Linked DNA regions of Homo sapiens. The protein of the gene in region 1 interacts with the protein of each later gene in a pairwise test. Each region holds a gene or a part of one and is shown on either strand. Other genes may lie near its edges.

Region 1 (3,500 bases):
ATGACAGCTGGCAGAAGCAATAGGGATGCTGTTACCATGATCAGAGTGACATGTACAGTTATCTCAAGGGGCAATGGGTTGAGAGCAGAGGAAGAACGGGGTTAACTTCAGGTCATGGAACTTAAGGAATTAAGTAAATCACAACTAGTACAGCTTCCATGAGAGGTGTTTCTGAACTCAGGTTCCTAAACCTTAAAAAAGGATGCAGGAGTCACTACTTCTCCCAGCTAAGGCCAATTGGCTAGGTTTTGCCCAATATTCTTTTCGAGACCACCCACCCTCCTTTCTCTCCTGCTCCTACAACAGCTGCCCATGGCAACAAGAGGCAGATTCCCCCTTCCTCAGGAACTCCCAGTCCTTTGCAAACCTCAAGCCCCTCCTCCCATCTTCCAGGCCCACAGCACAGACTCTAACTCTGCCTTTGGCACCAGCTGAATGGCCGTCCCCTGTTCCCTCCTCCCACCCCTTCTTTGGACCTGCTCACCCTTCGCACCACTTTCAATCCAACGGGCACAAACCCCAACTGCCTTCAAGGTGAGTTTTCCATACCAAGTAATATAAATATCAAAAACAAAACTTCTGAAAAAGAAACAGTGTTGAGACTTCTTCCAGTTTTCCAAGGAGCCCCTCCAGTCCTAAGATGCCCAGGGGTGGGTGTGAGGTGGAGCCCCACGCAGAGTACGGTCATGTGCTTCTTCCAAGCCCCAGGGCTGCGTGGGGAACCAAAGTCTCTGCACAGAGAATCCCAACCTTCCTGTTCCCTCACTTTTCCTCTTCTTTTCATGGTAGCTTAATTTGGTTCTTCAAAGCTGGAGCTTGGCAACCAAATGCCTAGGTAGAAAAGGAAAAAAAATTAAAACAGTTCAACAGAATAGAACCAAAATGGAGTGAAATAACAGCCAGCCACTGGAGGTGGAGCAGCACACCTCAAAAGGAGAACGGAGCCTGGAGAGCTGAACGCTTCCATGAGGGCCACATGTGACTAGGGATGCAGCAGTGGCCTTTGTCAGGGGGACCTGAGCAGCCTATGACTTGGATGACAAAACAAGGTCCTGAAATAACTAATAAATACATCCTACCACATTGCATAAATTCTCTCTTTCCCTTTCCCTTACCCCTTCATTTCCTACCCATTTTTTCCCTGAGGCTCAATTGCTCTAGGGACTGAAAAGGGAAGTAAGCCCCTGGAGTAACCCCTTTTGAACCTGGCAAGAAAGAGCTCTATATTTCTTTCTTTCTTTTTTTTTTTTTTTTTTGAGACGGAGTCTCGCTCTGTCACCCAGGCTGGAGTGCAAAGGCATGATCTTGGCTCACTGCAATCTCCACTTCCTGGGTTCAAGATTCTCCTGTCTCAGCCTCCCAAGTAGCTGGGATTACAGGCATGCGCCACCATGCCTGGCTAATTTTGTATTTTTAGTAGAGACAGGGTTTCACCATGTTGGCCAGGCTGGTCTCAAACTCCTGACCTCGTGATGAGCCCGCCTTGGCCTCCCAAACTGCTGGGATTACAGACGTGAACCATCACACCTGGCCAGAGAGCTCTGTATTTCTGCAGCTTCTGTCAACTGGACAGGGTTGACACAGAAACACAAAGGCCACTGTTGCTTCCACCTTCCGACTTGAGACAGGCACTGTTCTAGCCATTACTCTATAGTCTGACTCCAAACCCCCTGGCATGAAATTCCCCAGGTAACAGCACACATAGACCAAGCAGGCCATTCAGAACTCCCAAATTAAAATCAGCCTGAACAACAAGAAGTCATAAAGGCCAAATTTCATACCCTAAAGACCTTTCCCAATGGGGCACAGTGGCTCATGCCTGTAATCCCAGAACTTTGGGAGGCCAAGGTGGGTGGATCACTTGAGTGAGGTCAGGAGTTTGAGACCCAACTGACAAACGTGGTGAAACCCAGTCTACTAAAAATACAAAATTAGCCAGGCGTGGTGGTGCACACCTGTAATCCCAGCCTCCCACTGGGAGGCTGAGGTGGGAGAATTGCTTGAACCCGGGAGATGGAGGTTGCAGTGAGCCAAGATCACGCCATTGCACTCCAGCCCGGGCAACAAGAGCGAAACTCCATCTCAAAAAAAAAAAAAAAAAAGACCTTTCCCTTGGGAAGTGTTACTTCCTCCCTTTCCAGGGCTCCTAGGGTCTACACCAGGAGCAAGTTCAGCATTACGCTTACTCTTTGTCACAGGCATCAATACTGATGTCACAGCAAAAAGGGATCCTGGGAGTTCAGTTCAAACCTTCGCCAATATATGACTGCCCCCAACACTCAAGACAAATGGCTACCCACTGGCCTGTTCCTGATCATGCCACGTCCTTCCCAGCTGAGGCAGGGCCTTTATACCTCTAGGTCCCCTTGCCCAGAATGCTCTGCTCCAAGGCACTCCCATGGCTGGCTCCTTGATATTTGGGTATCGGCTGAAATGGCACCTCCTCACAAGTCTCTCCCTGACCATCTAAACTTGAGGAGTATCCCACCACTAATCACTAAACTTTACCCAGTTTTACTTTCCTCACAACACTGTACAGTCACCTGAAATTAGCCCATTCATTTATGTTCATGTTTGCTGCCTGTCTTTCCTTAGGAGAAGGGAAGCTGAGTGAAAACAGGGCCTTTGCTTTGCTCAGCACTCTATTCTCAATTCATACTGGGTGCCAAATAAACACAAATATACAGCTATCTGCTGAATGGAAGCTCTTGAGGAAAACCATCCCAGTTTTGGACCTCTCTGTTAAAAAGGTTCTTGTAAAGTTGGACTGAAATCTAGTTCCTTGTAACTTACATTCATTTTGGTCCTTATCCATGTCTCTTTTTGCTGTGACATGGGAGGGCCTTGGGGCAGAGCATTCTGGGCAAGGGGACCTAGAGGTATAAAGGCCCTGCCTCAACTGGGAAAGGTGTGGCATGATCAGGAACAGGCCGGCAGGGAGCCACTTGTCTTGAGTGTTGGGAGCAGTCATGCACTGGCAAAGGTTTGAACTGAACTCTCAGGATCTCTTTTTGCTGTGACATCAGGATTGTTGCCTGTGGCAAAGAATAAGCGTAATGCTGAACTTGCTCCCCACTGGAACCACAGAGAGGAGGTTAATCACTCTCTTCCTTAGGAAAACCCATCAAATGCATCTTTCAGCTATCCCTCCCTAAAACCTCCGTGCTCTGGGTTAATCACATTTCTTTCTAGGCCATTTATTCCCATATGATGAAGTTTGAGCTCTCCAATGCCACAAGGCCTTTCTCTGAACATGCTCCCTGTTTATATGGGTTCTTCTACAGCACTGCACCCACAGACGTGGTCCTCTAACTGAATGGCCTAATTACTCTTCAAGGGTAGTCAGGTAGGTGGACCTCCCTAGTGCTCTACCTCTCACCCTAATCTCAACTGCAAAGCCATCATGCAGAGAAATCCACCTAGACACAAGACATTAGATATTTAGTCATTTCCAAAGGCATACAATTTGCATATAATTGAAGACATGATGAGACTGTACA
Region 2 (3,500 bases), on another chromosome or scaffold:
AGAGGATGAACTAGAGCTGAGAAAAGGGGAGATGTTTTTAGTGTTTGAGCGCTGCCAGGATGGCTGGTTCAAAGGGACATCCATGCATACCAGCAAGATAGGGGTTTTCCCTGGCAATTATGTGGCACCAGTCACAAGGTATGGTTTTGAATACATTGTTTACTATGTTCTAAACAGAGAAGCTTTGTTCTTTTCCATGGTTTTCAGCCTATCCAGATTCCTTTCACATTATAATTGCCTGTTACATAGCCAAGGTTTTAAAAATCCATGTCTACATCTGCTAAAATCCCTTCTAACTCTAAAATTTTTAGCTTATTTTCACATGGATATATGTGAAATTATAGGTTTCTACCAGTAAATGTACTGGGTTTTAAGTTATTTGCTTTAATGGGAGAAGGTTCAACAACACCATTTTCAGTATTTTTCTACTAGAAAAGGCATAGTGTTGATACAAAGAAAAGCTATATTATTAATACTTATGTGTTTATATAATGCGTACTATATGCCAGGCAGGCAGATTTATAAATGCATTACACTGATTAACCTTACTTCTTAGTTGCTGTTACATTGAGGCACAGAGATATCATACAGCTTGTCTGAGATCACATAGTGAAGAAGTGCTCAAACTCAAACCCTGGTGATCTAGATTTATATTTATTTCATTAACTTGGTAATTACCTCTGAATTCTGACAATGAATTCTATAATATAGTCAGAAATAAAAATTTTAAGTATAGCATAGATCCTTCTCAACTGAGGGCAGTTTTGCTCCCCAGGGAACATTTGACAATATCCAGAAATATTTTTGATTGTCACGACTAGAGGTTAGGGGTGCTACTGGCTTTAGTGGATAGAGGCTAAGAGTGAAACATCCTATGCATAGGACAGCCTCCCACAAAAAATAATCATAATCTGGCCTAAAATGTCACTGAGGTTGAGAAACCCTGTTATAGAGTGACAGGAGCTTTAGATATGCAAAATTTTATATATTTTATGTAAAGATAGTTCAGCTTTTGGTCACTGAGGAAAGAAGCCTTGGAAACAGTTAAATGACCTGTAATGAAATCAACACTGAGGGAGCCCTAGTTTTTGACCACCGGCCGTTTAATATACAGTCCAGGTCTAACTGCATTAAATCTTTCCTCAAACCGCCTGATTTTAAACAAATAGCTTAATGAACTGACATGTTTGTCAGCTGTTGGCCTTGATTTATAGGTTGGCCAGCAGCCTAATCAAATGAAAATCACTGTTGTTGCAGATGGTGACAGAATGTTAACTTTAATTTGACTTGCAAATTTTTAATCAATATAAACATTCTTTTCTATGTATGTTAAAATCTACATTCAGAATCCATCCCATCCAGAAAATGACAGATAGAACCTCCCTGGTGCAAAATAATGATAATAATGGATAAGAGAAATGCAACAAAGAACAAAAAAATAAAGTTAATGAAGGAAAACATTTTTATAAAAATTTTTTTGTCAAACATCTTTATCAAAAACCAATTATTAGAAGTCTCTCTGCTTGTATAGCCGGGTGCAGTGGCTCACGCCTGTAATCCCAGCACTTCAGGAGGCCAAGGTGGGCAGATCACTTGAGGTCAGGAGTTGATCACTTGAGGCCTGACCAACATGGTGAAACCCCATCTCTACTAAAAAAAAAAAAAAAAAAAAAAAAAATACAAAAATTAGCCAGGCATGGTGGCACGTGCCTGTAGACCCAGCTACTTTGGAGGTTGAGGCAGGATAATCACTTGAACCTGGGAGGCGGAGGCTGCAGTGAGCCGAGATCATGCCACTGCACTCCAGCCTGGGCGGCAGAGCAAGACTCCATCCTAAGGAAAAAAAAAATCTATCTGTTTGTTTAACTCTAGAGGAATATGTGCTTACAGTAAATTCTGTCATTCATGGTAAATAATAAGGATGTTCAAGCTAATGAAGTGTTTTCTTAGTAGAAAGTTACTATATACAGAATTGTTATCATTTAAATGAATTTGGAATATGGAAAAAAACACATTACACAAAACTATACTGAACTTAATTACATTCAGTGAGTAAATAGATGTTTAGAGTTGGCTGTAACCCTGAGCATGTGCAAATACAGGATGAATACAGGAGAGTTATTTCACACTGGCCCTGCTTTCAAGGAACTTACCAAGTCAGCAGTATTTGATAAAGAATTTATTTAAAAAATAATACACCAGCTAGGCGCGTTGGCTCAAACCTGTAATCCCAGCACTTTGGGAGGCTGAGGCGGGTGGATCACCTGAGGTCAGGAGTTCGAGACCAGCCTGGCCAACATGGTGAAACCCCACCTCTACTAAAAATACAAAAAAGTAGCCGGGCATGGTGGCGCGTGCCTGTACTCCCAGCTACTCGGGAGGCTTAGACAGGAGAATCACTTGAACCTGAGAGGCAGAGGGGTGAGCTGAGATCGCACCACTCCACTCCAGCCTGGGCAACAGTGAGACTCTGTCTCAAAAAAAATACTACTACTACTAATAATAATATACCACATTTTGTAATCAAGGGCCAAAGCATAAACAATTGTGGAGTTTAGAAACAGAATGAAAGAAGAAATCCACATGAAACAATAGAATCATAAGATCTTAAACCTGAATCTGAGGCAAGGCTTCTTGAACTGACAGTGTTCATGCTGGATCTTGAAACATAAATGAGATTACAATATGTCAAGAGAAGACGGAGAGGACTTTCCACTAGTGCGTGTATGTGTGTGCATGCATGTACATGGGCACATGTGTGATGTGGAGCTGGAGGCAAGTAGGAAGCCAGGAAACAGGAGCAAAGATATGGAAATGGGGATATTGTCAGGGAATGATCCTAGCTTGTTCTGTAGATGAAGGGGGAGAATCCAGGGCCTTGAAAGTCAGTGGAGATATTTGGTCTTGTTATGGAAAGCTGAATGCAATAACTGTATATTCTTGAGCAGAGTATGACGTGTGGTTTCTGGTGACTCAGAATATATTTCAAGACCTTTCTCTGTCTCAGCCATCATTACGTTGAATTTTCTATTCTTAAACTTTATAAAAATAATTCCATTCATTTTTTAAAATGTTCTATGTTTAAAGCTCTGAGTCATTTTTCTTGCATTTAATTGTTCTTTCTGTCATTTTGCTGATGGACTGGGCTTTCCATCTATGTTTGTGTCTTGGCAGGGCGGTGACAAATGCTTCCCAAGCTAAAGTCCCTATGTCTACAGCTGGCCAGACAAGTCGGGGAGTGACCATGGTCAGTCCTTCCACGGCAGGAGGGCCTGCCCAGAAGCTCCAGGGAAATGGCGTGGCTGGGAGTCCCAGTGTTGTCCCCGCAGCTGTGGTATCAGCAGCTCACATCCAGACAAGTCCTCAGGCTAAGGTCTTGTTGCACATGACGGGGCAAATGACAGTCAACCAGGCCCGCAATGCTGTGAGGACAGGTAAGGAGGAACCCAGGCCAGAACATATCAGGATAAAGGGCTTACCTGCCTAATAGTAGATCTTTT

The links. Proteins that work in one complex are often made in the same cells at the same time.
Region 2: the proteins of SOCS7 (region 1) and SH3RF1 interact in a two-hybrid assay, tested with the Homo sapiens proteins (one large-scale study listed by BioGRID).

The regions. Positions count from the first base shown.
Region 1 is NC_000017.11:38,396,844-38,400,343, reverse strand, and holds part of SOCS7 (suppressor of cytokine signaling 7), read right to left. Parts: intron 832-3,500; 3' UTR 1-831. UniProt on the Homo sapiens protein: Substrate-recognition component of a cullin-5-RING E3 ubiquitin-protein ligase complex (ECS complex, also named CRL5 complex), which mediates the ubiquitination and subsequent proteasomal degradation of target proteins, such as DAB1 and IRS1.
Region 2 is NC_000004.12:169,117,457-169,120,956, reverse strand, and holds part of SH3RF1 (E3 ubiquitin-protein ligase SH3RF1), read left to right. Parts: coding exon 1-138; intron 139-3,174; coding exon 3,175-3,434; intron 3,435-3,500. UniProt on the Homo sapiens protein: Has E3 ubiquitin-protein ligase activity. In the absence of an external substrate, it can catalyze self-ubiquitination. Stimulates ubiquitination of potassium channel KCNJ1, enhancing it's dynamin-dependent and clathrin-independent endocytosis.